Regions from separate parts of the Homo sapiens genome. Here region 1 is linked to region 2. The links come from fine-mapping of genetic effects on gene expression. A gene starts in region 2. The other region holds a variant in brackets. All regions are shown on one strand. Distances are between the middles of the regions.

The links.
Region 1: its variant is fine-mapped to the expression of CLASRP in esophagus mucosa (GTEx, PIP 0.98).

The regions. Positions count from the first base shown.
Region 1 is chr19:44,920,898-44,936,871 of GRCh38, forward strand. It overlaps the pseudogene APOC1P1. Among named protein-coding and RNA genes, the nearest start is that of APOC4, 13 kb to the right of the region's middle. RefSeq lists an enhancer at 6,445-7,337. The variant C/G (reference allele first, on the strand shown) is at 6,126.
Region 2 is chr19:45,027,901-45,043,874 of GRCh38, forward strand. CLASRP (CLK4 associating serine/arginine rich protein) reads left to right here and starts at 11,145. Exons shown (of 21, transcript NM_007056.3): 1 at 11,145-11,208; 2 at 12,284-12,411. The coding sequence starts at 12,313. It overlaps RELB (RELB proto-oncogene, NF-kB subunit), which reads left to right. Exons shown (of 12, transcript NM_006509.4): 8 at 988-1,092; 9 at 4,634-4,849; 10 at 6,344-6,412; 11 at 6,551-6,628; 12 at 9,505-10,292. The coding sequence ends at 9,890. RefSeq lists an enhancer at 10,819-11,688.

The sequences.
Region 1 (15,974 bases), 110 kb before region 2:
GGACCTTGAAGAGATACCTGCCCTCCCATGTTCACTGCAGGTCTGCTCAATACCCAAGATATGGAAACAACCTAAATGTTTATCAACAGATGAATGGGTCAAGGAAATGTGGTCTCTACATGTAATGGAATGTAACGCATCCTTAAAAAGGAAACCCTAAGGCCGGGCTCTGTGGCTCACACATGTTTTTTTTTTTAAATTTTATTTATTTATTTATTTATTTATTTATTTTTTATTGATCATTCTTGGGTGTTTCTCACAGAGGGGGATTTGGCAGGGTCATAGGACAATAGTGGAGGGAAGGTCAGCAGATAAACAAGTGAACAAAGGTCTCTGGTTTTCCTAGGCAGAGGACCCTGAGGCCTTCCGCAGTGTTTGTGTCCCTGGGTACTTGAGATTAGGGAGTGGTGACGACTCTTAACGAGCATGCTGCCTTCAAGCATCTGTTTAACAAAGCACATCTTGCACCACCCTTAATCCATTTAACCCTGAGTGGACACAGCACATGTTTCAGAGAGCACAGGGTTGGGGGTAAGATCACAGATCAACAGGATCCCAAGGCAGAAGAATTTTTCTTAGTATAGAACAAAATGAAAAGTCTCCCATGTCTACTTCTTTCTACACAGACACGGCAACCATCCGATTTCTCAATCTTTTCCCCAACTTTTCCCCCCTTTCTATTCCACAAAGCCGCGATTGTCATCCTGGCCGGTTCTCAATGAGCTGTTGGGCACACCTCCCAGACAGGGTGGTGGCCGGGCAGAGGGGCTCCTCACTTCCCAGTAGGGGCGGCCGGGCAGAGGCGCCCCTCACCTCCCGGACGGGGTGGCTGCCGGGCGGAGAGGCTCCTCACTTCTCAGACAGGGCGGTTGCCAGGCAGAGGGTCTCCTCACTTCTCAGACGGGGTGGCCGGGCAGAGACGCTCCTCACCTCCCAGACGGGGTCGCGGCCGGGCAGAGGCGCTCCTCACATCCCAGACGGGGCGGCGGGGCAGAGGCGCTCCCCACATCTCAGACGATGTGCGGCCGGGAAGAGGCGCTCCTCACTTCCTAGATGGGATGGCGGCCGGACGGAGACGCTCCTCACTTCCCAGACTGGGCAGCCAGGCAGAGGGGCTCCTCACATCCCAGACGATGTGGCTCACGCATGTTATCCCAGCACTTTCGGAGGTCAAGGCAGGAGGATCACTTGAGGCCAGGAGTTGGAGACCATCTTGGCCAACATGGTGAAACCCCGTCTCTACTAAAAATACAAAAAATTAGCCAGGCGTGCGCCTGTAATCCCAGCTACTCAGTAGGCTGAGGCATGAGAATCGCTTGAACCCAGGAGGTGGAGGCTGCAGTGAGCCGAGATCATGCCACTGCACTCCAGCCGGGGCATCAGAGCAAGACTCAATCTCAAAACATAAAAGGAAATCCTGAAACTGGGCACAGTGGCTTATGCGTGTAATCCCAGCACTTTGGAAGGCTGAGGTGGGAGGATCACTTGAGGTCAGGAGTTCGAGACCAGCCTGGGTAACATGGTGAGACACCATCTCTACCAAAAAAAGAAGAAAGAGAATAAATAAATGTATAAATATTACTCCCTGGGGTTAATGCATCCCCTTCTCCCCCAAATCAACCCTCCAAACTCCTATACTCTCCTGTCTTCTCACTCAGCAGCCTGTTAGAACTCAAGTCAGATTTTTTGTTTTTTGTTTTTTGAGACGGAGTCTCACTCTATTGCCCAGCCTGTGCAGTGGCACCATCTCAGCTCACTGCAACCTCTGCCTCCCAGGTTGAACCGATTTTCCTGCTCAGTCTCCCAAGTAGCTGGGACTACAGGCGTGTGTGTGCCACCACACCCAGCTAATTTTTGTATTTGTAGTAGAGACGGGGTTTCACCATGTTGCCCAGGTTGGTCTCGAACTCCTGAGCTCTAGCAATTAGCCCTCCTTGGCCTCCCAAAGTGCTGGGGTTACAGGCATGAGCCACCATGGCCGGCCTCAAGTCAGATTATGCTCTTCCTCTGCTCAGAACTCTCCTGATTCTCTCAGAGTAAACCCAGAAGCACTTACCAAGGCCTACAAACGGGACACTATGCCGTCCACGATCGCCTCCTCCCTGTCTCTCTCTCCATCACTCACAAGCAACTCTTTGCTATTCCTCCAATGTACTGGGCAGGTTCCCATCTCAGGGCCCTTGCAGTTACTGTTCCTCTTGCCTGGAATGTTCTTCCCCAGGGGTCCAGATATCTGCCTGGCTCCCTCCTCACTTCCTCCAGTTCTCTTCCAAAATCATCCCCTGCCAGACGTGGTGGCACACGCCTGTAATCCTAACTCTTTGAGATGCCAAGGTGGGAGGATTGCTTCAGCTCAGGAGTTCAAGATCAGCCTGGGCAATAGCAAGACCCCATCCGTTCTAAAAATAAAAATAAATAAAAAATAAAAAATAAAAATTAGCTGAGCATGGTAGTGGACACCTTGGGGTTCCAGCCACGTGGCAGGCTGAGGTAGGAGGATGGCTTTGAATCAGGGAGGTTGAGGCTGCAGTGAGCCATGTTCTGAATTAGATACTGGTGATGATCGTGCAACCTTCCCAATATAGGAAAAACCACTGAACAGTACATTTTCAAAGGGTAAATTTAGCCGGACACGGTGGCTCATGTCTGTAATCCCAGCACTTTTGGAGTCCGAGGCGGGCAGATCACCTGAGGCTGGGAGTTCAAGACCAGCCTGACCAACATGGAGAAACCCCGTCTCTACTAAAAATACAAAAAATTAGCCAGGTATGGTGGCGCATGCCTGTAATCCCAGCTACTCCAGAGGTTGAGGCAGGAGAATTGCTTGAACCCGGGAGGCAGAGGTTGTGGTGAGCCGACATCACACCATCGTACTCCAGCCTGGGCAACAAGAGCGAAACTCCGTCTCAAAAAAAAAAAAAATAATTAAGAAATTAGCCAGGCGTGGTGGTGGGTGCCTGTAGTCTCAGCTACTTGGGAGGCTGAGGCATGAGAATCGCTTAAACCCGGCGGGTGGAGGCTACAGTGAGCCTAGATTCCACCACCGCACTCCAGCCTGGGCAACTGAGTGAGACTCCACCTCAAAAAAATAAATAAAAGGGTAAATTTTATGGAATGTGAATCATAATTCAATTTTTCAACATGCGTTAGGAGGGACATTTCAAACTCTTTTTTACCCTAGACTTTCCTACCATCACCCAGAGTATCCAGCCAGGAGGGGAGGGGCTAGAGACACCAGAAGTTTAGCAGGGAGGAGGGCGTAGGGATTCGGGGAATGAAGGGATGGGATTCAGACTAGGGCCAGGACCCAGGGATGGAGAGAAAGAGATGAGAGTGGTTTGGGGGCTTGGTGACTTAGAGAACAGAGCTGCAGGCTCAGAGGCACACAGGAGTTTCTGGGCTCACCCTGCCCCCTTCCAACCCCTCAGTTCCCATCCTCCAGCAGCTGTTTGTGTGCTGCCTCTGAAGTCCACACTGAACAAACTTCAGCCTACTCATGTCCCTAAAATGGGCAAACATTGCAAGCAGCAAACAGCAAACACACAGCCCTCCCTGCCTGCTGACCTTGGAGCTGGGGCAGAGGTCAGAGACCTCTCTGGGCCCATGCCACCTCCAACATCCACTCGACCCCTTGGAATTTCGGTGGAGAGGAGCAGAGGTTGTCCTGGCGTGGTTTAGGTAGTGTGAGAGGGTCCGGGTTCAAAACCACTTGCTGGGTGGGGAGTCGTCAGTAAGTGGCTATGCCCCGACCCCGAAGCCTGTTTCCCCATCTGTACAATGGAAATGATAAAGACGCCCATCTGATAGGGTTTTTGTGGCAAATAAACATTTGGTTTTTTTGTTTTGTTTTGTTTTGTTTTTTGAGATGGAGGTTTGCTCTGTCGCCCAGGCTGGAGTGCAGTGACACAATCTCATCTCACCACAACCTTCCCCTGCCTCAGCCTCCCAAGTAGCTGGGATTACAAGCATGTGCCACCACACCTGGCTAATTTTCTATTTTTAGTAGAGACGGGTTTCTCCATGTTGGTCAGCCTCAGCCTCCCAAGTAACTGGGATTACAGGCCTGTGCCACCACACCCGGCTAATTTTTTCTATTTTTGACAGGGACGGGGTTTCACCATGTTGGTCAGGCTGGTCTAGAACTCCTGACCTCAAATGATCCACCCACCTAGGCCTCCCAAAGTGCACAGATTACAGGCGTGGGCCACCGCACCTGGCCAAATTTTTAATTTTTTTCTAGAGATAGGGTCTTACTGTGTTGCCCAGGCTGGTGTCAAACTCCTGGGCTCAAGCAGATCCTCCTGCCTCAGCTTCCCAAAGTGGTGGGATTATAGGTGTGAGCCACTGCGCCCAGTCAGTAGCCCCCTCTTTGCCCCTCACTGAGCCCTACTGGATGTTCTTGGTTGTGTGACAGTTTCCCCATCTATTAAACAGAAACCCCTATAGCAGAGGGGAGGATGAGGTTGGAAAATCAGGAGCATTGTTATTCTATTCTTGTGGGATCGGGGAAGCAGACATCTGGGTGGATGTTTGGGGAATGCTGGGCTCAGTTGAGGAAGTAGGGGGGCCCCTGGGGCTTACAGGGACTGGAAGCTCTGAGCTGGCCAGAGGGATGTTGCAATCCTGCCAGGGTCTTGTCTATGCTGTCCCTTTCACAACCATCCCCCTACCGCCAGGCTGACACGTGGTTGTGGGGGCACAAGGCCAGCCGAACTAGAGTCTGAGGCTGGGCTGAGGACACCCTCCCCATCAGCTGCCAGGGTCACTGGCGGTCAAAGGCAGCTGGTGGGGAAGGAATTGGACTCCAGCCCTGGGGGACGGATGTGGTGATGGTGGGAAGCAGGCTTGGTGCCAGGAGGGGCATCAGAGGGTGAATAAGAGCAGATAGAGTGTTTGGGGGAGGTAGCCAGCCAAAGGGGGTGAGGCCCGGTGGAAGGGAAGAAGGGGCATACACTCAGAGCTTTGCAGCTGAAGGTTTTAATTTTTTGAGATGGGGTCTCACTCTGTCTCACCAGGCTGGAGTGCAGTGGCGCAATCACAGCTCACTGCAGCCTCGAACTCCTGGGCTCAAGCAATCTTCCTACCTCAGCCTCTTGAATAGCTGGGACTACAGGTGTGCGCCACCACGCTCAGCTAATTTTTGAACTTTTTTGTAGAGATGAGGTCTCCCTATATTGCCCAGGCTGGTCTCTTAACTCCTGGGCTCAAGTGATCCTCCTTCCTCAGCTTCCCAAAGCGCTGGGATTACAGGCATGAGCCACCATGCCTGGCCAATGCAGGTGAGGTTTTTAGTGTCCAGCTAAGGCGACCCCTTCCCTTTGCAAAAAAGGGAGACTGAAAATCATCAAGTTAAGAGCCCAGAGAATATCAGGGTGGTCTGGGATGTTTCAAGGGCTGGTCTGAAAGAAATTGGAGGTGGCACGCAGGGCAGGGTTGCGGGGCCAACTGGGAGGCCCCAGCAACATAAAGGAAAAGTTGTTGGGGCTGAGGAGGCTTGCTGAGAGAGGGGAAGTGAGGGAAAGAGGTGATCTAGGGACACGGTGTGAATGAGGGGGGGATGAGATCACAGGGTTATTACTGGGAGACCCCTGAGGGAAGATGGCCACAGGGACAGGACGAGGCTGTCCTCTGAGTGGGGAAAGGAGCTATGGTAGTCTGAGGACCCCCCAGAGTCAGGGAGATTGGGAGGTGAGGGTGCTGAATGGTAAAGGGCTTCGGAGCTAAGGGAAATGGTCAGGACCCCACCTGACCCCAACGCCCACGGGCCAGGGGCAGAGGAGAAAAACCTGGGTGGGCAGAAGGAGGCAATCTTCCAGGGGAAGGCTCAGGAGGAGGGAGATCAACATCAACCTGCCCCGCCCCCTCCCCAGCCTGATAAAGGTCCTGCGGGCAGGACAGGACCTCCCAACCAAGCCCTCCAGCAAGGATTCAGGTTGTTGAGTGCTTGGGAGGGACACCCGCCTCCACTCTGCAAGAACTCATAAAGGGAGATGAGGGGATCGTGGGAGGGAGGGAGGAGGGTGCCACTGATCCCCTGAACCCCTGCCTCCGCCTCCAGGGTGCCCCTCCGGCCTCGCCATGAGGCTCTTCCTGTCGCTCCCGGTCCTGGTGGTGGTTCTGTCGAT[C/G]GTCTTGGAAGGTAAAAGTGGGATGGGAGAATTGCGGAGTTGGAGATTTGGAAGAGTGAAGGTGGCTACAGGCCTGGGGTCCCGGCTTAGAGGACCTCTGAGAGCTCTGGGGCCCCTTCTTGGTCGTGGTTGCCCCATTGTGGTCGAGTGGGTCTCCAGGTTCGCCCAGGCTCAGTCCGGCAGGCGCCAAATCTGCCCAGGAGAGCCCTAGTAACCGATGACGTATGGATCTCCACACCTCTGGGATTGGCTGTCCTCCTTTTATAGCCTTGAAAGTGGGTGATGGGGCGATGGGCTGTGGGAGGAGGTCAGTGCTGAGTAAGGCAATTCCCAGCGGCTTGAGCCCCACGCGGTCACTTCAGTATCCTCCCCATTCTAACCACATGATCCCCAAGGATCTCCTTATCTATCCCCGGGATCCCACCCCAAGGGGGTTCCAATAACAAATTTTTGGTGGGGCGTGGCGGCTAATGCCTGTAATCCCAGCACTTTGGGAGGCCGAGGCGGGCAGATCACTTGAGGTCAGGAGTTCGAAACCAGCCTGGCCTACATGGTGAAACCCCATCTCTACTAAAAATACAAAACAGCCAGGCGTTGTGGTGCGCGCTTGGCTACTTGGGAGGCTGAGACAGGAGAACTGCTTGAACCTAGGAGGCGGAGGTTGCAGTAAGCCGAGATCGCACCATTTGACACAGCAAGTCTCCGTCTCAAAACTACAACAACAACAACAACAACAACCAAATTTTGCACCCCTGCCTCATCTTCCTGGCAGGCCCAGCCCCAGCCTAGGGGGCTCCAGAAGTCTCCAACCCCTTTGATGGCCTGGAGGAGTTAGGAAAGACCCTGGAGGACTACACTCGGGAATTCATCAACCGCATCACACAGAGTGAACTTCCTGCCAAGATGTGGTTAGAACCCTTCCCAGGGCACGGGAGGGCTGGGGTGTGTTTGTGTGGAGCCCTGGAGGATGTCCAAGATGAACAGATTGAAAAAAAAAACAAGTCCCAGAGAGGCTGACAGCATCCTTCTGGTCACACAGCTAGATCTCAAGGATCTCAGACGTCAGGGACAGTTTCCCGGACTCCCATCCAGGCCACATTTTAAAAGATGGTCTTGGGCTGGGCGCCGTGGCTCACACCTATAATCCTAACACTTTGGGAGGCCTAGGCGGGCGGATTGCCTGAGATCAGGAGTTCAAGACCAGCCTGGCCAACATGGTGAAACCCTGTCTCTACTAAAAGTACAAAAAATTAGCCTGACATGGGGGTGTGCACCTGTAATCCCAGCTACTCGGGAGGCTGAGGCAGGGGAATTGCTTGCACCAGTAAGGTGGGGGTTACAGTGAGCCAAGATTGCACCACTGCACTCCAGCCTGGGCAACAAAGCAACATTCCGTCACAAAAGAAAAAAAAAAAAGATGGTTTTGCTTAGGTACGGTGGCTCACACCTGTAATCCCAGCACTGTGGGAGGATTGCTGGAGCCTAGGAGTTTGAGACCAGCCTGGCTAACATGGCGAGATCCTGTCTCTATTTTTTTTTTTTTTTTTTTGAGACAGAGTCTCGCTCTGTTGCCCAGGCTGGAGTGCAGTGGCGCCATCTCGGCTCACTGCAACCTCTGCCTCCCCAGTTCAAGCAATTCTCTGCCTCAGTCTCCTGAGTAGCTAGGATTACAGGCGCCCACCACCACGCCCGGCTAATTTTTTTGTATTTTTAGTAGAGATGGGGTTTCACCATCTTGGCCAAGCTGGTCTTGAACTCCTGACCTTGTGATCCACCCGCCTCAGCCTCCCAAAGTGCTGGGATTACAGGTGTGAGCCACCATGCCCGGTGATCCTGTCTCTATTTAAAAAACAAAACAAAACAAAACAAAACAAAAAGCATACAAGCCAGCCCCGGTGCGATAGCTCATGCCTGTAATCCCAGCACTTTGGGAGGCTGAGTCGGGCAGATTACCTGAGATCGGGGGTTCGAGGCCAAGTTGGGCAGATCACCTGAGGTTGGGAGTTTGAGACCAGCCTGACCAACATGGAGAAACTCCGTCTCTATTAAAAATACAAAATTAGTCAGGCATGGTGGTGCATGCCTCTATTCCCAGCTACTTGGGAGGCTGAGGCAGGAGAATCACTTGAACCTGGGAGGCGGAGGTTGCAGTGAGCTGAGATAATGCCATTGCACTCCAGCCTGGGCAATAAGAGCGAATCCACGTCTCAAAAAAAAAAAAAAAAATTGAAAAAAAAAAAGATGGTCTTGTGGGGTAATGAAGGACACAAGCTTGGTGGGACCTGAGTCCCCAGGCTGGCATAGAGCCCCTTACTCCCTGTGTGATCTTAAGAGAGAGGCATTACTGTGAGCCTCAGTTTCCTTTCCTGTGAAATGGTGGTTCTGTGGGGAAGTAAAGCAGAAGGCCTATAGGGTGTCTGGCACATTGTAAATGCTCAGTACATCTTCAAATCCACACTTGCTCCCTTTGGCAAGTTAGAGAGTCATTCGTTCCTCAACACATATTTATTGAGCATCTGCTAAGTGCTAGAAACTGTTTCAATGTGGGGAATAAAACAGTGAAGAATATGCCGAGCGCGGTGGCTCACACCTGTAATCCCAGCACTTTGGAAGGCTGAGGTGAGTGGATCACTTGAGGTCAGGAGTTTGAGAACCCCATCTCTACTAGAAATACAAAAAATTACCCAGGCGTGATGGCACACACCTGTAGTCCCAGCTACTTCGGAGACGGAGGCAAGAGGATCACTTGAGCCCAGGAGGTTGAGGCTGCAGTGAGCTATGTTTGTGCCACTGCATTCCAGCCTGGGTAACAGAATGAGACCCTGTCTCATCCAAAAAAAAAAGAAAGAAAGAAAGAAAGAAAGAAGGAAGGGAGGGAGGGAGGGAGGGAAAATCTAGTCAGGCCTAAACTTAGAAAGATTGTTTGGAGGCCAGGTGCAGTGGCTCATGCCTGTAATCCCAGCACTTTGGCAGGCTGAGGCGGGCAGATCACCTGAGGTCAGGAGTTTGAGACCAGCCTGACCAACAAGGAGAAACCCTGTCTCTTCTAAAAAAAAAATACAAAAAATTAGCCAGGCATGGTGGTGCATGCCTGTAATCCCAGCTACTCAGGATGATGAGGCAGGAGAATTGCTTGAACCTGGGAGCTGGAGGTTGCGGTGAGCTGAGATCGCGCCATTGCACTCCAGCCTGGGCAACAAGGGCATAACTCCGTCTCAAAAAAAGAAAGAAAGAAAGAAAGATTGATTGTTTGGAGGGAGAGGCAAAGGTCCAAAGTCAAGAAGGTCGATCAATAAGCAAGAGCGGGTGGCATCCCAGGCAGGGGAACAGCCTGGGCATACGCAGGGAGGCTGGAAAGTACCTTTGAATGAGTAGGGGAACAGATAGGGCAAGGGCAGGCTGGAAGAAAGAGTGGGTAGCAAGAGATGGCAGGCCTTGAAAGCCAGGCCAGAGTGAAGTTTTCTTTTCTTTTCTTTTCTTTTGAGACGGAGTCACGCTCTGTTGCCTAGGCTGGAACACGGTGGTGTGATCTCAGCTCATTGCACTCTCCACCTCCCAGGTTCAAGCAATTCTCCTGCCTCAGCCTCCTGAGTAGCTGGGATTACAGGCGTGCACCACCACGGGTGGCTAATTTTTGTAATTTAGTAAAGACGGGGTTTTGCCATGTTGGCCAGGCTGGTCTCGAACTCCTGACCTCCAGTGATCTGCCTGCCTCGGCTTCCCAAAGTGTTGGGATTACAGGCGTGAGCCAAATGCCCAGCCAAGGGTAAAGTGTTTAGACTTCAACGTGCTTTGGTCCACCTGGGAAACTGAGGCACAGAAGTTGGCCCACCCAGCCCAGCGGTCCTCCTAATCCCACAGACAGTGGGGATGGAGATTCAGCAAGGGGAAGAGGTGGGAGTCAGGTAGCAGGTAGAATTTGAACAGCCTGGGAGGTAGCTGCACACAGTGACCCCCTTCCTTATTCCTCCCCACAGGGATTGGTTTTCAGAGACATTTCGGAAAGTGAAGGAGAAACTCAAGACTGACTCATGAGGACCTGAAGGGTGACATCCCAGGAGGGGCCTCTGAAATTTCCAACACCCCAGCGCCTGTACTGAGGACGCCCTCCATGTGTGTCCAATGTGGTCACACGCCCAGGTGTGACCAATAAAAATCCTATGGAAAATTCTCTCTGGCCAGGCATGGTGGCTGACGCCTGTAATCCCAGCACTTTGGGAGGCTGAGGCGGGCGGATCACAAGGTCAGGAGATTGAGCCCATCCTGGCTAACACGGTGAAACCCCGTCTCTACTAAAAATACAAAAAAAATAGCCAAGCGTGGTGGCAGGCGCCTGTAGTCCCAGCTATTCGGGAGGCTGAGGCAGGAGAATCGCTTGAAACCGGGAGGTGGAGCTTGCAGTGAGCTGAGATCGTGCCACTGCACTGCAGCCTGGGTGACAAGAGCCAGACTCCGCGTCAAAAAAAAAAAAGAAAAGAAAATTCTGTCTGACTGCTTCTTCACTGTGGGGCAGGGGTGCCGGAGAGGGTAGGGGCTGTGGGAGAGGGCAGGGGCTGAACCTTACGGACTCCTCACAAGCCCTCCAATGCCCCATCTACTTGCCCTGTGCTAAGGATGTTTTAACTCTATGGTCTCAAAAGAATCTTCCTAAGAACCTTGCAAACTGGGACTTAATAATCCCATAAGGGCATTGAGGCCCAGAGAGGTGAGGCTACTTGTATAAGGTCACACAGCCAGGAAGTGGAGAACTGGAACTAGATTGAACCCTCAGCCAGGCAATGTCACTATGCTACACTTTTCCTAGTGTGGTCTACCCGAGATGAGGGGCTGAGGTTTTTTGTTTTGTTTTGTTTTGTTTTGAAACAGAGTTTCGCTCCTCTTGCCCAGGCTGGAGTACAATGGCACCATCTCAGTTCACTGCAACCTCCGCCTCCCAGGTTCAAGGGAGTCTCCTGCCTCAGCCTCCCAAGTAGCTGGGATTGCAGGTGCGTGCCACCATGCCTGGTTAATTTTTGTATTTTTAGTAGAGACGAGGTTTCTCCATGTTGATCAGGCTGGTCTTGAACTCCTGACTTCACATGATCTGCCTGCCATGGCCTCCCAAAGTGCAGGGATTACAGGCATGAGCCACCTCGCCTGGCCTTTTTTTTTTTTTCTTGAGACAGAGTCTCACTCTGTACCCCAGGCTGGAGTGCAGGGGCATGATCTCGGCTCACTGCAACCTCCGCCTCCTGGGTTCAACAGATTCTCCTGCCTTAGCCTCCCTAGTATCTGGGATTACAGGTGTGTGCCACCACACCCAGCTAATTTTTGTATTTTTAGTAGAGACAGCATTTTATCGTGCTGGCCAGTCTGGTCTCCAACTCCTGGATTCAAGCAGTCCTCCTGCCTTGGCCTCCCAAAGTGGTGGGATTACAGGCGTGAGCCACTGTGCCCAGCTCTTACGTAAAATTAAACCACATGCACATGCAAAACAACCCTATGTAAAAAAAAAATTTTTTTTGAGATGGAGTCTGGCTCTGTCACCCAGGCTGAAGTGCAATGATGCGATCTCCACTCACTGCAACCTCTGCCTCCCAAATTCAAGTGATTTTTTTGCCTTAGCCTCCTAAGTAGCTGGGATTACAGGCATGTGCCACCACACCTGGCTACTTTTGTTGTATTTTTAGTAGAGACAGAGTTTCACCATGTTGGCCAGGCTAGTCTCGAACTCCTGACATCAAGTGATCCGCCCGCCTTGGCATCCCAAAGTGTTGGGACTACAGGTGTGAGCCACTGCGCCCAGCTTAAGATTGCATAAGAACAATATTTGAAAGCCATATATCTAATAAGGGGTTAATATTCAAAATATATAAGGGACTCCTACAATGCGAGTGGGAACACCAAACACTGCAGCCACTGTGGAAAACAGTATGGGGTTTCCTCAAAACATTAAAAATAGAACTACCAAATGATCCTGCAATCTCATTTCTGGGTATTTATTCAAAAGAATTGAAATCAGGACCTTGAAGAGATACCTGCCCTCCCATGTTCACTGCAGGTCTGCTTAATACCCAAGATATGGAAACAACCTAAATGTTTATCAACAGATGAATGGGTCAAGGAAATGTGGTCTATACGTGCAATGGAATGTAAAGCATCCTTAAAAAGGAAACCCTGAGGCCGGGCTCTGTGGCTCACACATGTTATCCCAGCACTTTCGGAGGTCGAGGCAGGAGGATCACTTGAGGCCAGGAGTTGGAGACCATCCTGGCCAACATGGTGAAACCCCGTATCTACTAAAAATACAAAAAAAATCAGCCAGGCATGGTGGCGGGTGCCTGTAAACCCAGCTACTCAAGAGGCTGAGGCAGGAGAATCACTGGAACCCAGGAGGCGGAGGCTGCACTGAGCAGAGATCGTGCCGTTGCACTCCAGCCTGGGCGACAAGAACAAAACTCCATCTCAAAAAATAAAAAAAGGAACTCCTGAAGCCAGGCTCGGTGGCTCCCACCTGTAATCCCAGCACTTTGGGATGCCAAGGCAGGAGGATCACTCGAGGCCAGGAGTTGGAGACTATCCTGTCCAACATGGTGAAACCCTATCTCTACTAAAAATGCAAACATTAGCCAGGCATGGTGGCGTGTGCCTGTAATCCCAGCTACTTGGGAGGCTGAGGCGTGAGAATAGCTTGAACCAGGAGGTAGAGACTGCAGTGAGCTGAGATCATGCCACTGCACTCCAGCCTGGGCGTCAGAGCAAGACTCCATCTCAAAACATAAAAGGAAATCCTGGGCCGAGCGCAGTGACTCACGCCTGTAATCCCAGCACTTTGGGAGGCCGAGGCAGGTGGATCACAAGGTCAGGAGATCGAGACCATCCTGGCTAACATGGTGAAACACTGTCTCTACTAAAAATACAAAAAATTAGCTGGGCATGGTGGCGGGCGCCTATAGTCCCAGCTATTCGGGAGGCTGAGGCAGGAGAATGGCGTGAACCCGGGAGGCAGAGCTTGCAGTGAGCCAATATTGCGCCATGCATTCCAGCCTGGATGACAGAGTGAGACTGTGTCTCAGGAGAAAAAAAAAAAAAAAAAAGGAAATCCTGAACCTGGGCATAGTGTCTTATGCCTGTAATCCCAGCACTTTGGAAGGCTGAGATGGGAGGATCAGTTGAGGTCAGGAGTTCAAGACCAGCCTGGGTAACATGGTGAGACACCGTCTCTACCAAAAAAAGAAGAAAGAAAGAGAATAAATAAATTATAAATATTACTCTCTGGGGTTAATGCATTCCCTTCTCCCCCAAAATCAACCCTCCAAACTCCTATACTCTCCTTTCTTCTCACTCAGCAGCCTGTTAGAACTCAAGTCAGATTTTTTGTTTTTTTGTTTTTTGAGGCGGAGTCTCACTCTGTTGCCCAGGCTGGAGTACAGTGGCACCATCTCAGTCCACTGCAACCTCTGCCTCCCAGGTTCAAGCGATTCTCCTGCTCAGCCTCCCAATTAGCTGGGACTACAGGTGTGTGTGTGTCACCACACCCAGCTAATTTTTGTATTTGTAGTAGAGACGGGGTTTCACCATGTTGCCCAGGCTGGTCTCAAACTGCCCAGCTCTAGCGATCTACCCTCCTCGGCCTCCCAAAGTGCTGGGGTTACAGGCATGAGCCACCGTGCCCAGCCTCAAGTCAGATTATGCTCTTCCTCTGCTCAGAACTCTCCTGATTCTCTCAGAGCAAACCCAGAAGAACTTACCAAAGGCCTACAAACAGGACACTACCCGGTTCACGATCGCCTCATCCCTCTCTCTCCATCACTCACAAGCAACTCCTTGCTATTCCTCCAATGTACTGGGCAGGTTCCCACCTCAGGGCCCTTGCAGTTACTGTTCCTCTTGCCTGGAATGTTCTTCCCCAGGGGTCCAGATATCTGCCTGGCTCCCTCCTCACTTCCTCCAGTTCTCTTCCAAAATCATCCCCTGCCAGACATAGTGGCACACTCCTGTAATCCTAACCTTTGAGAGGCCAAGATGGGAGGATTGCTTCAGCTCAGAGGTTCAAGACCAGCCTGGGCAACATAGCAAGACCCCATCCCTCCTAAAAAAAATTAGCTGGGCATGGTGGTGCACACTTGTGGTTCCAGCCACTTGGGAGGCTGAGGTAGGAGGATGGCTTTGAATCAGGGAGGTTGAGGCTGCAGTGAGCCATGTTCCAAATTAGATAGTGGTGATTGTGCAACCTTGCCAATATAGGAAAAACCATTGAACTGTACACTTTAAAAGGGTAAATTTAGCAGGACGCGGTGGCTCACGCCTGTAATCCCAGCACTTTGGGAGTCCGAGGCGGGCAGATCACTTGAGCTCAAGAGTTCGAAACCAACCTGACCAACATGGTGAAACTCCATCTTTACGAAAAATTAAAAAATTAGCCAGGCGTGGTGGCAAGTGCCTGTAGTCTCAGCTACTTGGGACGCTGAGGCGGGAGAATTTCTTGAACCTGCGGGGCAGAGGCTACAGTGAGCTGAGATTGCCCCACTGCACTCCAGCCTGGGCAACAGAGTGAGACTCCATCTCAAAAAAAAAAAAAAAAAAAAAGAAAAAGAAAAAAGGGTAAATTTTATGGAATGTGAATTATAACTCAATTTTTCAACATGCATTAGGAGGGACATTTCAAACCCTTTTTTACCCCAGCCTTCCCTGCAATCACCCAGAGTATCCAGCCAGGAGGGGAGTGGCTAGAGACACCAGAAGATTAGCAGGGAGGAGGGTGCAGGGTTTCGGGGGATGAGGGGATGGGATTCAGACCAGGGTAAGGATCCAGGGGTAGAGAGAAAGATTTGAGAGTGGTTTTGGGGCTTGGTGACTTAGAGAACAGAGTTGCAGGCTCTGTTTTTGGGCCCGCCCTGCCCCCTTCCGACCTCTTAGTTCCTATCCTCCAGCAGCTGTTTGTGTGCTGCCTCTGAAGTCCACCCTGAATGACCTTCAGCCTGTTCCCGTCCCTGATATGGGCAAACATTGCAAGCAGCAAACAGCAAACACATAGCCCTCCCTGCGTGCTGACCTTGGAGCTGCGGCAGAGGTCAGAGACCTCTCAGGGCCCATACCACTTCCAACATCCCCTTGATCTCTTGGATTTTGGTGGAGAGGGGCAGAGGTTGTCCTGGCCTGGTTAGGTAGTGTGAGAGGGTCCCGGTTCAAAACCACCACTTGCTGGTTGAGGAGTCGTCAGTAAGTGGCTGCGCCCCCACCCTGAGGCTTGTTTCTCCATCTGTACAATGGAAATGATGAAGATGCCCACCTGATAGGGTTTTTGTGGCAAATAAGTAAGTAGTTTTTTTGTTTTTCTTTTTCTTTTTTTTTTTTTTTTTTTGAGATGGAGTCTCACTCTGTCACCAGGCTGGAGCGCAGTGGCGTGATCTCGGCTCACTGCCAACTCCACCTCCCGGGTTCAAGCGATTCTCCTGCCTCAGCCTCTGAGTAGCTAGGACTACAGGCGCCCGCCACCACACCCAGCTAATTTTTGCATTTTTAGTAGAGATGGGGTTTCACCATGTTGGCCAGGATGGTCTCAATCTCTTGACCTTGTGATCCACCTGCCTCGGCCTCCCAAAGTGCTGGGATTACAGGCATGAGCCACCACGCCCAGCTCCCCCACCTTTTTTTTTTTTTGAGATGGAAAGCTCTGTCACCCAGGCTAGAGTGCATTGAGCCATCTTGGCTCTCTGCAACTTCTGCCTCCCGGGTTCAAGCAATTCTCCTGCCTCAGGCTCCCAAGTAGCTGGGATTACAGGCGCCCACAACCATGCCTGGCTAATTTTTGTATTTTTAGTGGAGACAGAGTTTCACTATATTGGCCAGGCTGATCTCGAACTCCTG
Region 2 (15,974 bases):
GATAGGGTCTCACTCTGTTGCCTAGGCAGTCATGCAGTGGTGCAGTCATAGCTTACTGCAGCCTGAACTCCTGGGCTCAAGTGATCCTCCCAGTTCAGCCTCACAAGTAGCTGAGACTACAGGCATGTGCCACCACACCTGGCTAAGTTTTATTTTTAAAACTTTGTAGAGCTAGAGTCTCACCATGTTACCCAGGCTGGTCCAGAACTCCTGGGCTCAAACGATCCTCCCTCCTCGGCCCCTCAAGTGCTGGCATTACAGGTGTGAGCCATCATGCCTGGCAATTTTTTTTTTCTTTTTTGAGAGAGATGGGGGTCTGCTATGTTGCCCAGGCTGGTCTTGAACTTCTGGCCTCACGTGATCTTCCTGGCTGGGCCCCCAAAAGTGCTGGGATTACAGGTGTGAGCTACCTTGCCTAGCAAAGGATCTTCTTTTGTTTTGTTATTTTTTTGTTTGTTTGTTTTTTGTTTTGAGACGGAGTTTTCCTCTGTCACGATGGAGTGCAGTGGTGCAATCTCAGCTCCCTGCAACCCCTGTCTCCTGGGTTCAAGTGATTCTTCTGCCTCAGCCTCCTGAGTAACTGGGACCACACCCAGCTAATTTTTGTATTTTTAGTAGAGTCAGGGTTTCACCATGTTGGCCAGGCTGGTCTCAAACTCCTGACCTCAAGTGATCCACCTGCCTCGGCCTCCCAAAGAGCTGGGATTACAGGCGTGAGCCACCATGCCCGGCAAAAGATCTTCGTTTTGGACAGACACTCACCGGGCTTCAGCTTGAGGGCTGGCGATTGTTCGTTAACCCCTTCTGTCCGAGTGACTTCTTTCTCCACCTGGACTATGGGTTCCATGAGGATCAGATGCCCTGCCTTTTCAATTCCCTACGTCTCCAGGGCCCCGGGGATGGCACCCACTGGGTGCCCAGTAAGGCTTTGGTGACTGAATTCTCGGGATTTTTTTTAATACACTTCTTCCTCTTGCTCCTTCCCAGAATCCACAAACACATCAGAGCTGCGGATTTGCCGAATTAACAAGGAAAGCGGGCCGTGCACCGGTGGCGAGGAGCTCTACTTGCTCTGCGACAAGGTGCAGAAAGGTGAGGGGCCTGGGGCAGCAAGCTTGGGCAGAGCGGGGTCTGGCAACTTGGAGGGGTAGCCAGGGAGCCCGGGAAGATGAAAGGATGAGAAAGAGCTGGTTAACCAGGGCACCAGAGTGCAAGGGTCCAGAACACTGTCTTTGCAGTCAGACACAGCTGATGGGTTCATTCACTCCCTGAGTCGCCTTCTCACCCGTCTGCGTAGGACGACAGAGACTCGTCTGTGGTGACCCATGCTGCAAGCTAGGCGGTGCCATCACAGAGCTCACGACATGTCCAGAGGACTCTGATGTTAAGGGTGGAATTGCATAAATGAACGCTTTACGGTGGTTCTGATAAGCGCTATGGGTAAAGCAAATAGGACAGGAGAAGCAACTCCACTTCATTCATCTCTGTTCAAATGGCCCTTCCTCAAACAGGCTTTTAAAAAAAAAAGACAGCTGGTCACCGTGGCTCAAGCCTGTAATCCCAGCAATTTGGGAGGCTGAGGTGGGTGGATCACTTGAGCTCAGGAGTTCGAGACCAGCCTGGGCAACATGGTGAAAACCCATATCTACTAAAAATACAAAAATGAGGGCTGGGCGCAGTGGCTCATGCCTGCAATCCCAGCACTTTGGGAGGCCAAGGTGGGCGGATCACCTGAGGTCAGGAGTTCGACACCAGCCTCCCAACATGGTGAAACCCCATCTCTACTAAAAAACACAAAAATGAGCTGGTTGTGGTGGCATACACCTGTAATCCCAGCTACTCGGGAGGCTGAGGCAGGAGAATCGCTTGAACCTGGGAGGCAGAGGTTTCAGTGAGCCGAGATCACGCCTCTGCACTCCAGCCTGGGCCACAGAGCAAAGCTCTGTCTCAAAAAAAAGAAAAAAAGAAAGAAAAGAAAAAGACAGCTGGGCACAGCAGCTCATGCCTGTAATCCTAGCACAGTTTTGGAGGCTGAGGCGGGCAGATCACTTGAACTCAGGAGTTCGAGACCAGCCTGGGCAACATGGTGAAACCCTGTCTCTACAAAAAATAAAAAATTTAGCAGGTGTGGTAGTGTGCACCTGTAGTCCCAGTTACTTGAGAGGCTGAGGTGGGAGGATCACTTGAGCCCGGGAGGCGGAGGCTGCAGTGAGCCAAGATTGCACCACTGCTCTCCAGCCAGGGCGACAGAGACAGACCCTGTCTCAAAAAATCAAAACCAAAAACAAACCGGCTGGGCTGGTGGCTCATGCCTGTAATTCTAGCACTTTGGGAGGCTGAGGTGGGAGGATCACTTGAGCCCAGGAGTTTGAGTCCAGTCTGGGCAACATAGCAAGCCCCCATCTCTACAAAAAAAAGTTCTTTTTAATTAAAAAATAGCCAGGCATTAGGCCGGCTGTGGTGGCTCACACCTGTAATCCCAATACTTTGGGAGGCCAAGGTGGGCGAATCACTTATGGTCAGGAGTTCAAAACCAGCATGGCCAACATGGTGAAACCCTGTCTCTACTAAAAATATAAAAATTAGCTGGGTGTGGTGGAACACACCTGTAATTCCAGCTACTTGGGAGGCTGAGGCACGAGAATCACTTGAACCTGGGAGGCAGAGGTTGCAGTGAGCCGAGATCATGCCATTGCACACCAGCCTGGGCAACACAGTGAGACTCTGTCTCAAAAAATGAAATAAAATAGCCAGGCATGTTGGGGCATGTGCCTGTAGTCCCAGCACTTGGGAGGCTGAGGTAGGAGGATTGCTTAAGTGCAGGAGTTGGAGGTTACAGTGAGCTATGATGGTGCCACCGCACTGCAGCCTGGGCAATAGAGCGAGACTCTGTCTCAAAATAGAATAAAGTAAAGTGAAGAAACTGGTTCCAGAGATATCTAGTAACTTCCCCAAGTTATAACAGAGTTGGTAGTGAAGAGTTCTAGCCTTCCTGGGTTTCCATCTTGGCTCTAACACTTGCCAGCTGTGTGACCTTGGACAAGTGACTTCACCTCTCTGTGCCTTCATTTTCGTCTTTATACAATACGGTACCTAATAGTACCTTCTTCATAGAGTTGTTGTGTGACTTAGAGGCAATCTATATGTAACTGACACATATAAAGTCTCAGTACATGGAGGTACTGTGATGACGGGCGATGCAGTAAGACAAGAAAAATAAATAGCAGGCAGAGTAGCATCATGAATCCTGACTCTTCCGCTACCAGTTGTGTGATGTCTCAACACTTTCAAGCCTCAGTTTCCGTTTTTGTTTTTTTTTTTAAGAACCAGGCTCTCGCTCTGTCTCTTAAATAGCTGGGACCACAGGCGTGCGCCACCATGCCTGGCTAATTTTTTAATTTTCTTGTAGAGACAAGGTCTTGCTGTGTTGGCCAGTCTGGTCTTGAACTCCTGGCCTCAAGTGATCTGCCAGCTTTAGCCTCCCAAAGGGCTGGGATTACAGGTGTGGGCCACTATGCCTGGACAGGCACCTTTTTTCTCTGCTGACTGTGCCTGGTATCCTTTTGCCATAACAGATCATAGCTGTGAGTATGACTGTATGCTGTCTTGTGAGTCCTCTTACTGAACCACCTGAGGGTGATCTTGAGGATCCCTGGACATGAGGGGGATATTAATTCTTTTGTTTGTTTGTTTGAGGCGGAGTCTTGCTCTGTCCCCCAGGCTGGAGTGCAGTGGTGCGATCTTGGCTCACTGCAAGCTCCGCCTCCCGGGTTCACGCCATTCTCCTGCCTCAGCCTCCTGAGTAGCTGGGACTACAGGCGCCTGCCACCATGCCCGGCTAATTTTTTTGTATTTTTAGTAGAGACGGGGTTTCACCATGTTAGCCGGGGTAGTCTCGATCTCCTGACCTCGTGATCCGCCTGCCTCGGCCTCCCAAAGTGCTGGGATTATGGGCGTGAGCCACCGTGCCTGGCAAGGGGGATATTAATTCTACCTACCTCTTAAATTGTTATAAGGATTAAATGAGATAATATATATAAAAATACATAAAACAAGGCCGGGTTTGGTGGCTTACATCTGTAATCCCAGCACTTTGGGAGGCCAAGGCGGGCAGATCACGAGGTCAGGAGAGCGAGACCATCCTGGCCAACGTGGTGAAACCCCGTCTCTATTAAAAATACAAACATTAGCTGGGCGTGGTTGCACATGCCTATAATCCCAGCTACTCGGGAGACTGAGGCAGGAGAATTACTTGAACCAGGGAGTTGGAGGTTGCAGTGAGCCGAGATCATGCCACTGCACTTCAGCCTGGAGGCAGAGTGAGACTCCATCTCAAAAACACACAAACAAAAAAAAACCAAAAATAAAATTAGCCGGGCGTGGTGGCATATGCCTGTAATCCCAGCTATTCCGGAGGCTGAGGCAGGAGAATTGCTTGAACCCGGGAGGCAGAGGTTGCAGTGAGCTGAGATCGCGCCATTGCACTCCAGCCTGGGCAACAGAGCAAGACTCTCAAAAAAAAAAAATTTTAAAAAGGGGGAATATTAGTCTTGATTTTAGGGGAGGCTGGGCAAGTTGGGAGCACAGTGGTCCAGATGTCCTGGCTTAGCTGATGTCCCCCGTTTCCTGCCAGAGGACATATCAGTGGTGTTCAGCAGGGCCTCCTGGGAAGGTCGGGCTGACTTCTCCCAGGCCGACGTGCACCGCCAGATTGCCATTGTGTTCAAGACGCCGCCCTACGAGGACCTGGAGATTGTCGAGCCCGTGACAGTCAACGTCTTCCTGCAGCGGCTCACCGATGGGGTCTGCAGCGAGCCATTGCCTTTCACGTACCTGCCTCGCGACCATGGTAACTACAGCAACCCAGGGTGACCCACCACCTCGGAGACTAGGTCTTTGGCCTTGGGGAGACCCCAGTGGGGATGGGAAAGAGGCAGAACTAGAATGCAGGCTCAGAGCTACAAAGACAGTGTTCAGATCCTGGCTCTGCTGCTTACTGGTTGTGTGACCTTGGCCTCTCTGAGCCTCATTCTTCTGTGCAAAATGGAAATAATAGTAGCTGTCCTGTGACATTTGGAGAGTATTTAATCTTTCCTCCCCTCAGCATCCTGCACATGCCCGGGCCTGTGCTCGGTATTGCTAGAGACACAGCAGTGACCAGCACGGCCCCTAGCTGTGTCCTCATGAGGCTTATAGTCCTGAGGATAGGGGACAGCCTGTCCCTACAGAGTGATGACCAGAGTGGGCAGGACTGGAATGAAGTGCTCAAGGGCTCACATTGCCCAGAGGGGGTACCTGACCCAGCTGTAGGTGTCAGGGAATGCTTCTTGGAGGAGGGGACAGCTGAGCTGAGGACAGGAGGATGACTAAGCAGGGAAGTTTTCTAGGGAAATAGTGAGAGTGGAGGAAGAGTGCTTTAAACAGCTGGAACAGCAGGTGCAAAGGTCCTGAGGCCGGATTGTGCCTGGGGTGCTCCAGGAACAACAAAGAGGCCAGTGTGTAGGCCGGGCGCAGTGGCTCATGCCTGTAATCACAGCACTGTGGGAGGCTGAGGCAGGCGGATCACCTGAGGTTAGGAGTTCGAGACCAGCCTGAACAACATGGCGAAACCCCGTCTCTACTAAAAATACAAAAATTAGCCGGGCGTGGTGGTGGGCGCCTATAGTCCCAGCTACTCGGGAGGCTGAGGCAGGAGAATTGCTTGAACCCGGGAGGCAGAGGTTGCAGTGAGCCAAGATTGTGCCATTGCACTCCAGCCTGGGCAACAGAGCAAGACTCACTACAGGCACCCGCCACCATGCCCGGCTAATTTTAGTATTTTTAGTAGAGACCGGGTTTCGCCGTGTTGGTCAGGCTGGTCTCGGACTCCTGACCTCAGGTGATCCGCCCACTTCAGCCTCCCAAAGTGCTGGGATTGCAGGAGTGAGCCACCACGCCCAGCCAAGACTCCATCTTTAAAAAAAAAAAAAATAGGCCTGGCACAGCAGCTCACACCTGTAATCCCAACACTTCGGGAGGCCAAGGCAGGCAGATCACTTGAGGTCAGGAGTTCAAGACCAGACTGGCCAACATATAGTGAAATCCCATCTCTACTAAAAAAATACAAAAATTAGCTGGGCGTGGTGGCGCACACCTGTAATCCCTCCTACTTGGGAAGCTGAGGCAGGAGAATCACTTGAACCTGGCAGGCAGAGGTTGCAGTGAGCCAAGACCGTGCCACTGCACTCCAGCCTGGTCAACAGAGCAAGACTGTCTCTAAAAATAAATAAATAAATAAATAAATAAAGGAATTAATTATTATTGATGAATTACTTCTTGTGTGTCCCTGGTATCTCCTTAACAGACAGCTACGGCGTGGACAAGAAGCGGAAACGGGGGATGCCCGACGTCCTTGGGGAGCTGAACAGCTCTGGTGTGTGCCCTCTGCCCCTTTCCACCCCCATCCCCAGGTTCTGGGGAGGGGACAGCTGACCCCACTGCCCTGTCCCACCCCAGGCTGGGGAGGAAGGGCTGTCGGGGAACAGGGGTCCTCATCTCTGCCTTCCCTCAGACCCCCATGGCATCGAGAGCAAACGGCGGAAGAAAAAGCCGGCCATCCTGGACCACTTCCTGCCCAACCACGGCTCAGGTGGGTCCCAGCTACACATAAGCCCCTGTCCCCTGGGTGGGCAGAGGGTAAGTGGCAGCCCTGCTTTTCTGGCCTCTTCACGCCCTCCAAGAGCAGCCACAAGGCGAGTCACTCAGCACTTAGCCAGCAACATAGAGTAGAAAGAATGAGGGCTTTGGAGACAGAATGGAAGTTCTGATCTCTTCTGGGCCATTTCCTTGCTATGTGAACTTCATTAAGTTGTTCTACCTCTCAGAGCCTCAGGGACTCCTTTGAAAAGGCCCAGTACATACTTAGCTCAGTGGTGTTTTAAAATTTGATCTATTTCTTCTTTCTTTTTTTTTTTTTTTGGAGATGGAGTCTCGCTCTGTCGCCCAGACTGCAGTGCAGTGGCATGATCTCAGCTCACTGCAACTTCTGCCTCCTGAGTTCAAGCGATTCTCCTGCTTCAGGCTCCCAAGTAGCTGGGACTAAAGGCATACACCACCACACCTGGCTAATTTTTGTATTTTTTAGTAGAGACGGTGTTTTACCACATTGGCCAGGCTGGTCCTGAACTCCTGACCTCAGGTGATCTGCTTGCCTCAGCCTCCCAAAGTGCTGGGATTACAGGCATGAGCCACTGCATCCCACCTATGATCACATTTAACTGCATTTACAGCAAAACCCAAAATAACAGGGGCTTCAACAGGATAGAACGTTATTTCTTGTCTCACATACATAGTCTGTAGGGACTGAAAGTGGCTCATGCCTGTAATCTCAGCACTTTGGGAGGCTGAGGCAGGTGGACTGCTTCAGTCCAGGAGTTTGAGACCAGCCTGGCCAACGTGGTAAAACCCTGTTTCTACTAAAAATACAAAAATTAGCCGAGTGTGGTGGTGCACACCTGTAGTCCCAGCTACTTGGAGGCTGAGGCAGACAAATCACTTGAACCCAGGAGGTGAAGGTTGCAGTGAGCCAAGATTGCACCACTGCACTTTAGCCTGAGCAACAGAATGAGACCCTTCTCAAAACAACAACAACAACAACAACAAAACAGGCCTGGCACTGTGGCTTACGCCTGTAATCCCAGCACTTTGGGAGGCCAAGGCAGGTAGATCACGAGGTGAAGAGAGAGAGACCATCCTGGCCAACATGGTGAAACTCCATCTCTACTAAAAACACAAAAATTAGCTGGATGTGGTGGCACATGCCTGTAGTCCCAGCTACTTGGGAGGCTGAGGCAGGAGAATCATTTGAACCCAAAAGGTGGAGGCTGCAGTGAGCCAAGATGGTGCCACTGTGTTCCAGCCTGTCAACAGAGCAAGACTCCGTCTCAAAAACAAGAAACAAAAAACAGTCCATAGGTAGGTGTTCCAGGGATGGTCTGGTGACTGCATGATCATCGAGAGACCGAGGCTTCTGCCATTTTCAGTTCGCCAACTCATGGTGCAAGGTGGCTGTTGTAGCTCCAGCCATTACGCCCACGTTCCAGTTAGCAGACCTTAGTCACATGATCACATCAGGCTGCAAGGAAGGCTAGAAAATAGTCCCTTGTGTCTCTAAGGTTTGTCTTGTTCCAAAAAGAGAGTCCCTCTTTTTTTTTGAGATAGTCTTGCCCTGTTGCCTAGGCTGGAGTGCAGTGGCACAATCTCAGCTCACTGCAATGTCCACCTCCCAGGTTCAAGTGATTCTCCTGCCTCAGCCTCCTGAGTAGCTGGGATTACAGGTGCCCACCACCATGCCCTGCTAATTTTTGTATTTTTGGGAGAGAAGGGGTTTCGCCATGTTGGCCGGGCTGGTCTTGAACTTCTGACCTCAGGTAATCTGCCCGCCTCGGCCTGCCAAAGTGCTGGGATTACAGGCGTGAGCCACCATGCCTGGCCTGAGAATCCCTCTTATAATGAAACTTTTTGATTTGATTGTTATTTTTTCTTAAGTCCCCATTATGCCTGAGAATGACATTTATTTTTTCTGACAATTTTGGGACTGGTGACTTCCCAACTTGTGTCTCCCATGGTCTGGAGATTTCACTTTTTGGGTTGTCTCTGTATGTTGGGGGGCTTTGGAACCTCTTCTCCTTTCTCACTCTCAGGGAAAACTCTCCACAGCTGTGTAGGAGCATGGTTTCAACCCCAGTTCCACAACAGCTGTGTGAGCCTTCCATTTACTTTCCCTCAGTGCCTTAGTTTACTTATTATTAATTATTTTTAGAGATAAGGTCTTGCTCTGTTGCCCAGGCTGGAGTGCAGTGGTGTGATCATACTTCGCTGCAGCCTCAAACTGGGCTCAAGCAATCCTCCTGCCTCAGACTGCCAGGTAGCTGGGACTACAGGCGGGCACCACCACACCCAGCTAACTTTTAAATAATTTTTTTGTAGAGACAGGGTCTCGTCACGTTGTGCTGGGATTACAGGTGTGAACCACCACGCTTGGCCTTCAATTTACTTATTATCTGAGAATGGTGATAGTCCCACACGGATTCTCCTTGGGATTAAGAGGGCACCTAAGGCCAGGCTTGGTGGCTCACACCTGTAATCCCAGCACTTTGGGAGGCCGAAGCAGGTGGATCACCTGAGGTCAGGAGTTCGAGACCAGCCTGGCAAACATGGTGAAACCCCGTCTCTACTAAAAAGATAAGAATTAGCTGGGCATGGCACATGCCTGGCCTGTAGTTCCAGCTACTCAGGAGACTGAGGCAGGGGAATCAACTTGAACTGGGGAGGCAGAGGTTGCAGTGAGCCAAGAGCACGTCATTGCACTCCAGCCAGGGTGACAGAATGAGACTCCATCTCAGAAAAAAAAAAAAAAAGGCCACCTTGATATCACATTTTGCAGGGAGTAGGGCATTTGATTTAGGGCCTGATCAGAAGTTAGCCCTAAATCACACTACACTTCTCTTGTCTTCATCCCCGTAGGCCCGTTCCTCCCGCCGTCAGCCCTGCTGCCAGACCCTGACTTCTTCTCTGGCACCGTGTCCCTGCCCGGCCTGGAGCCCCCTGGCGGGCCTGACCTCCTGGACGATGGCTTTGCCTACGACCCTACGGCCCCCACACTCTTCACCATGCTGGACCTGCTGCCCCCGGCACCGCCACACGCTAGCGCTGTTGTGTGCAGCGGAGGTGCCGGGGCCGTGGTTGGGGAGACCCCCGGCCCTGAACCACTGACACTGGACTCGTACCAGGCCCCGGGCCCCGGGGATGGAGGCACCGCCAGCCTTGTGGGCAGCAACATGTTCCCCAATCATTACCGCGAGGCGGCCTTTGGGGGCGGCCTCCTATCCCCGGGGCCTGAAGCCACGTAGCCCCGCGATGCCAGAGGAGGGGCACTGGGTGGGGAGGGAGGTGGAGGAGCCGTGCAATCCCAACCAGGATGTCTAGCACCCCCATCCCCTTGGCCCTTCCTCATGCTTCTGAAGTGGACATATTCAGCCTTGGCGAGAAGCTCCGTTGCACGGGTTTCCCCTTGAGCCCATTTTACAGATGAGGAAACTGAGTCCGGAGAGGAAAAGGGACATGGCTCCCGTGCACTAGCTTGTTACAGCTGCCTCTGTCCCCACATGTGGGGGCACCTTCTCCAGTAGGATTCGGAAAAGATTGTACATATGGGAGGAGGGGGCAGATTCCTGGCCCTCCCTCCCCAGACTTGAAGGTGGGGGGTAGGTTGGTTGTTCAGAGTCTTCCCAATAAAGATGAGTTTTTGAGCCTCCGGGGTTTCGTCTGTTCTGGGCTTGGGAAACGCCCTAGTCCCTTAGTAGCAAAGAAAGCCTCCAGGCTGGGGGCTCAGGCCTGTCATCCCAGCACTTTGGGAGGCCAAAGCAGGAGGATCGCTTGAGCTCACGAGTTTGAGACCAGCCTGGGCAACATGACGAAACCTAGTCTCTACAAAAAATACAAAAATTAGCCGGGCGTGGTGCTGCGCGCCTGTAATCCCAGCTACTCTAGAGGCTGAGGTGGGAGGATCGCTTGAGCCCAGGAGGTGGACGTTGCAGTGAGCCAAGACCGCACCACTGCACTCCAGCTTGGGCGACAGCGCGAGGCTGTGTCTCAAAAAAATAAAAAATGAAAATGAAAATAAAAAATGAGACCGGGCATGGTGGCTCATGGCTGTAATCCCAGCACTTTGGGAGGCCGAGGCAGGTGGATCACCTGAGGTCAGGAGTTTGAGACCAGCCTAACCAAAATGGTGAAACCCCATCTCTACTAAAAATACAAAAATTAGCCGGGCTTGGTGGCGCGCGCTTGTAGTCCCAGCTACTCGGGAGGCTGAGGTGGGAGAATAGCTGAAACCCAGGAGGCAAAGGTTGCAGTGAGCCTAGATCGCGCCACTGCCTTCTAGCCTGGGAGACAAAGAGAGACTCCGTCTCAAAAAAATAAAATTAAATAAATAAATAAAATAAAAAAGATAAAAAGATAAAGCATCCAAGCTCTTCCCTTCTCCGCTCTCCCACTTCTTCCTCGGGATCCCGCCCCTCTCGACTCTAGGACCCGCCTCTCTCGTCGGCGGAAGTGCGCTGCGCGGCCCTCCACCATGCTCCGCCCCCTCCCCCTAGCGCGGCCTTTCATTTCCGCTTCCGGTGCGGGCCGCGCGCGAGCGCAGCGGTGGGAGGCGGCGACCAGCCGGTGAGTGCAGGCTGCGGCTCGACCTCCCGGTTTTCGGGCAGGCCTCAGCCCAGCTTCTCCCTTTCCTCAGGCTCTCCCCATGCTGCTGTGGGCTTCTGCTGCGTCCCGGCCCCGAGGATCGCTCGTCCCTCACCCCATTAGGCCTGACGGGCCTCAGGCCGAGCCCGTGCCCCGGCTGTGGGCCAGAAGTTGCCGCGTCGAACTCGGCCTTCGGCCCAGCAGCTTATCACAGGCCCCGCCCCCTTGTCAAAAAAAAAAACAACAAAAAAAAAACCCAGCCCAAATCCTCAGGCCGCGACGCGATCCACAAGCCCCGTCCAAACCTTCGGTCTCCGCCCTTTCCCGCAAGCCCTGCCCCCAAGCTCAGCCCACGCCCTCCTGTCAGCCAGCTCCGCCTCTCTCAGGCTCTACGCTCTTTTTCTTTGGATGCTCTCCCCACCCCGCCATCTAGATCCCATCTTTAGACCTCAGCTTCACTCTGGTCTCCTTGCAACACTCCCTCCCCGTGTTCCCACTCCCTCTAGCATCTTCATCTTCCGCCACGCCCTTCACCTGTCCTCGACCTCCACCTTCATACAACTGCACTGTTCCCTTAAAAGCTTTCTCCGATTTCCTCCACCTGCCTTCATCCTTATTCTCCTTATCCCTCTACCACCCAGACTCATACCCAACCCCACGCATGGCCCCTAGTGGGAGCCTTTTCAGTTCTTCTCTTTCTCTTGAGCTCCAGCCTTAAGTGCTCAGGGTTTGCCTTCTGACCCTACTTCAAACACTGCTGATGTTTCAAAACCTTTCATTCCCGACTCCAGCGCGTGGAATCTAGGACACCCCTTTCCCAGTGATGCTCACCTCAGAATCACCTGAGGGTTTTTCAGAATGCCCAAGCTTCTAGATCGAAGTTGTTAGGGATGGACTTGAACATCTGGCATACTGTTCTGCAGCTTCACTTCTGCTCCCTGAAGCTAAGAGATGTGTTGTTTGGGATCGACTCTGCCACCAACTTGTTAGATGACTTTGATTCTGCCCATACGGGTTTCACAGACCATCTGACTTTCCTGGTCCCTTCATCCCTCAGGTTGAGGCCCCAGGCTTGGCCTCACCACAATGTGGCACGAGGCTCGGAAGCATGAGCGGAAGCTTCGAGGCATGATGGTCGACTACAAGAAGAGGGCGGAGCGGAGACGGGAGTATTATGAAAAGATCGTGAGTAACTGGCCTTTTGTCTGGGGTGAGGGACCCTGGGTTGGGGGGCACAGCTGGTCATCCTGGTAAAATCTGGGCTTGGAAGTATGTCAAGACAAGAGGCTCATTTCCTCAGGAGTATATTCATTAATCTTTTCTTGAGGATAATCATTGGTGGGATCCCAAGGGCTTCTGTTTGTTGTAGCATACTGTGTCGTTTGGTGTGGCCTCCCAGTGCCGATCCGGTGTTAGCAAGAAAAAGGGAAGTCTCTGTAACCCTCAGAGCAGTCCTGACGTTAGACTGGCCACCTCCAGAATGTCTGTTTCGCTTATTGCTGTGTTCCCCATTCCCAGAAGAGCTCAGCCACTCTTGAGATTTGGCTTGGCACACAATAGGAGTGAGTATTAAGTTGGCCTGGCACAGTGGCTCACGCCTGTAATCCCAAGTGGATCACCTGAGGTCACGAGTTCGAGACCAGCCTGGCCAAAAGGGTGAAACCCCATCTCTACTAAAGATACAAAAATTAGCCAGGCTTAGTGGTGTGTGCATGTAGTCCCAGCTACTTGGGAGGCTGACGCACGAGAATTGCTTGAGCCCGGGAGGAGGAGGCTGTAGTGCATGGAGATTGTGCCACTGAACTCCAGCCTGGGTGACAGAGCAAGACTCAACGCCTGTAATCCCAGCACTTTGGGAGGCCGAGGTGGACAGATCACAAGGTCAAGAGATCGAGACCGTCCTGGCTAACACGGTGAAACCCCATCTCTATTAAAATACAAAAAATTAGCCAGGTGAGGTGGCGGGTGCCTGTAGTCCCAGCTACTCGGGAGGCTGAGGCAGGAGAATGGTGTGAACCGGGGAGGGGGGCAGAGCGGAGCCTGCAGTGAGCTGAGATAGCACCATTGCACTCCAGCCTGGGCGACAGCGAGACTCTGTCTCAAAAAAAAAAAAAAAAAGACTGTCTCAAAAAAAAAGGAGTGAATATTAAGTGAAACCTGACCACTTCCCTCTCCTGTCTGATGCTTCAGTTGTTTTTGCGGGGAAGACCAAACTATCCCTGGCCTAAAAGACCCTTGTGGTCTGACCACTCAGCTTCATACTCGGACAGCTCCACTGGCCTTCTATTTCTGCCACCACAGGGCTTTGGCCTATATTACCCCCCCTCACCTATTTAACTCCTGTGTATCCTTGGGATCCCAGCTTGAAATGGCACCTGTTTTCTAGGTTCAGTGTTCCTGTCAGATGACATTTATATAGACCTTTCCCAGTTATTCCTGTATTACTGCCCCAGCCTCCTCCCTGGTCTGCTGGCCTCCAGTCCTGGCTCCTCCAGTCTGTCCTTCCTAGAAGAGTCCAAGAGGCCTTTCTAAAGCACAAAACTGACCCTGTCCCTTCGTTGCTCAGAGCACCTCTATGCCTCCTAAGTGCCCTTGAGAGAAAGCCCAGGCTCCTCACTGTGGCCTTTAGGGTCCTGCATGGCCTGGCCTTTGCCCTTCCTCCAGACTCACACCACCCCACACTCTGCCTTGTTCCTTTGCACAAGTCATTTTGGCCTCCTTGCTATTCCTCCACTGACCCAAGCGCTCCCCAGCCACAGGACCTTTGTATGAGCTCTTCCCATACCTGGTTAACTACTGCTTATCTGTCAGATCTCAGTCCTCAGAGAAGTCTTGTTTCCCAAGCTCAGTCAGGTGTCCTCTAAAAATGCCATAATCATAGCTCCCTTTCCTTCCCCTTTGTGGAATTTAACACACTTAAGATACACATACATGGGCCTGGTGTGGTGGCTCACGCCTGTAATCCCAGCATTTTGGGGGCCAAGGCAGGTGGATCACCTCAGGTCAAGAGTTTGAGACCAGCCTGGCTAACATGATGAAACCTCGTCTCTACTAAAAATACAGAAATTAGCTGGAGGTGGTGAGGAGCCTGGGCTTTCTCTCAAGGGCACTTAGGAGCCATAGAGGTGCTCTGAGCAATGAAGGGACAGGGTCAGTTTTGTGCTTTAGAAAGGCCTCCTGGACTCTTCTAGGGAGGACAGACTGGAGGAGCCAGGACTGGAGGCCAGCAGACCAGGGAAGAGGCTGGGGCAGTAATACAGGAGTAAATGGTAATCCCAGCTACTCGGGAGGCTGAGGCAGGAGAATTGCTTGAACCCGGGAGGCATAGGTTGCATTGCTCTCCAGCCTGGGCAACAGAGTGAGACTCCATCTCAAAAAAAAAATTTATATATATATATATATGTGTGTGTATGTATGTATACACACACGCACACACATACGCATACACAGGTTGAACATCCCTAATTCAAAATCCGAAATGCTCCAAAATCTTTTTTTTTTTTTGAGGCAGAGTCTTGCTTAGTCGCCCAGGCTGGAGTGCAGTGGCATGATGTCAGCTCACTGTAACGTCCACCCCCCAGGTTCAAGCTATTCTCCTGCCTCACTCAACCTCCTGAGTAGCTGGAATTACAGGCATGTGCCACTATGCCTGGCTAATTTTTGCACTTTTGGTAGAGACAGGGTTTCACCATGTTGGTCAGGCTAGTCTTGAACTCCCGACCTCAAGTGATTTGCTTGCCTCGGCCTCCCAAAGTGCTGGGATTACAGGCGTGAGCCACCACGCCCGGCTAGCTCCAAAATCTGAAACTTTCTGCATACTGACATGATGCCCCACTATAAGTGGAAAGTTTCACATATAAGTACTTTACACAAACTTTGTTTCATGCACAAAATTATTTAAAATATTGTATACAATTACCTTCAGGCTGTGCTTATAAAGTATAAATGAATTTGGTCTTTGGACTTGGGTGCCATCCCTAAGATATCTCATTATGAATAGACAAATATTCCAAAATCTGAAAAAATCTGAAGCACCTCTGATCCCAAGCACTTCAGATAAGGAATACTTTGTGTGTGTGTGTGTGTGTGTGTGTGTGTGTGTGTGTGTGTCCCGTCTCTACTACAAATACAAAAAATTAGCTGGGCGTGGTGGTGGGCACCTGTACTCCCAGCTACTCGGGAGGCTGAGGCAGGAGAATGGCATGAACCCGGGAGACAGAGCTTGCAGTGAGCCGAGATAGTGCCACTGCACTCCAGCCTGGGCGACAGAGCGAGACTCCGTCCCAAAAAAAAAAAAAAAAAAAAAAATTTTTTCCATTCATACGTATATGCACATACCCAGCTCTGTGAGACTGGGGACTAATTATATTTGGGTCACGTTTGTACCCTAGGGTTGGGTCCATCAAATATGGTTTGAAAGAATAGATGAATAAAACAATATTAACAATAGTAATTAACCATTTAATTGATCCTTCGCAGGCACCCCCAGGCCATGTGAGAGATGCAGGATTTTTTTTGAATCCCCACAGTCACCTGTGAGACAGAGACCGCTCTTACTTCCACTCAGCAGAGAAGAGGAAGCTCTGAGAGCTCCTTGCTTACCTCTGCCACCCAGGAAGGAACCACGGGGCTAAAGGGAGAACTCATCTCCGATAGTGTCAGAAAGATGTGATCATCAAGGCAAGGCCTGGGTCTCTGTTGGTCATAGTTGAGGCCCCAGAAGTGGCCTAGGAACACAGCACTCAGGA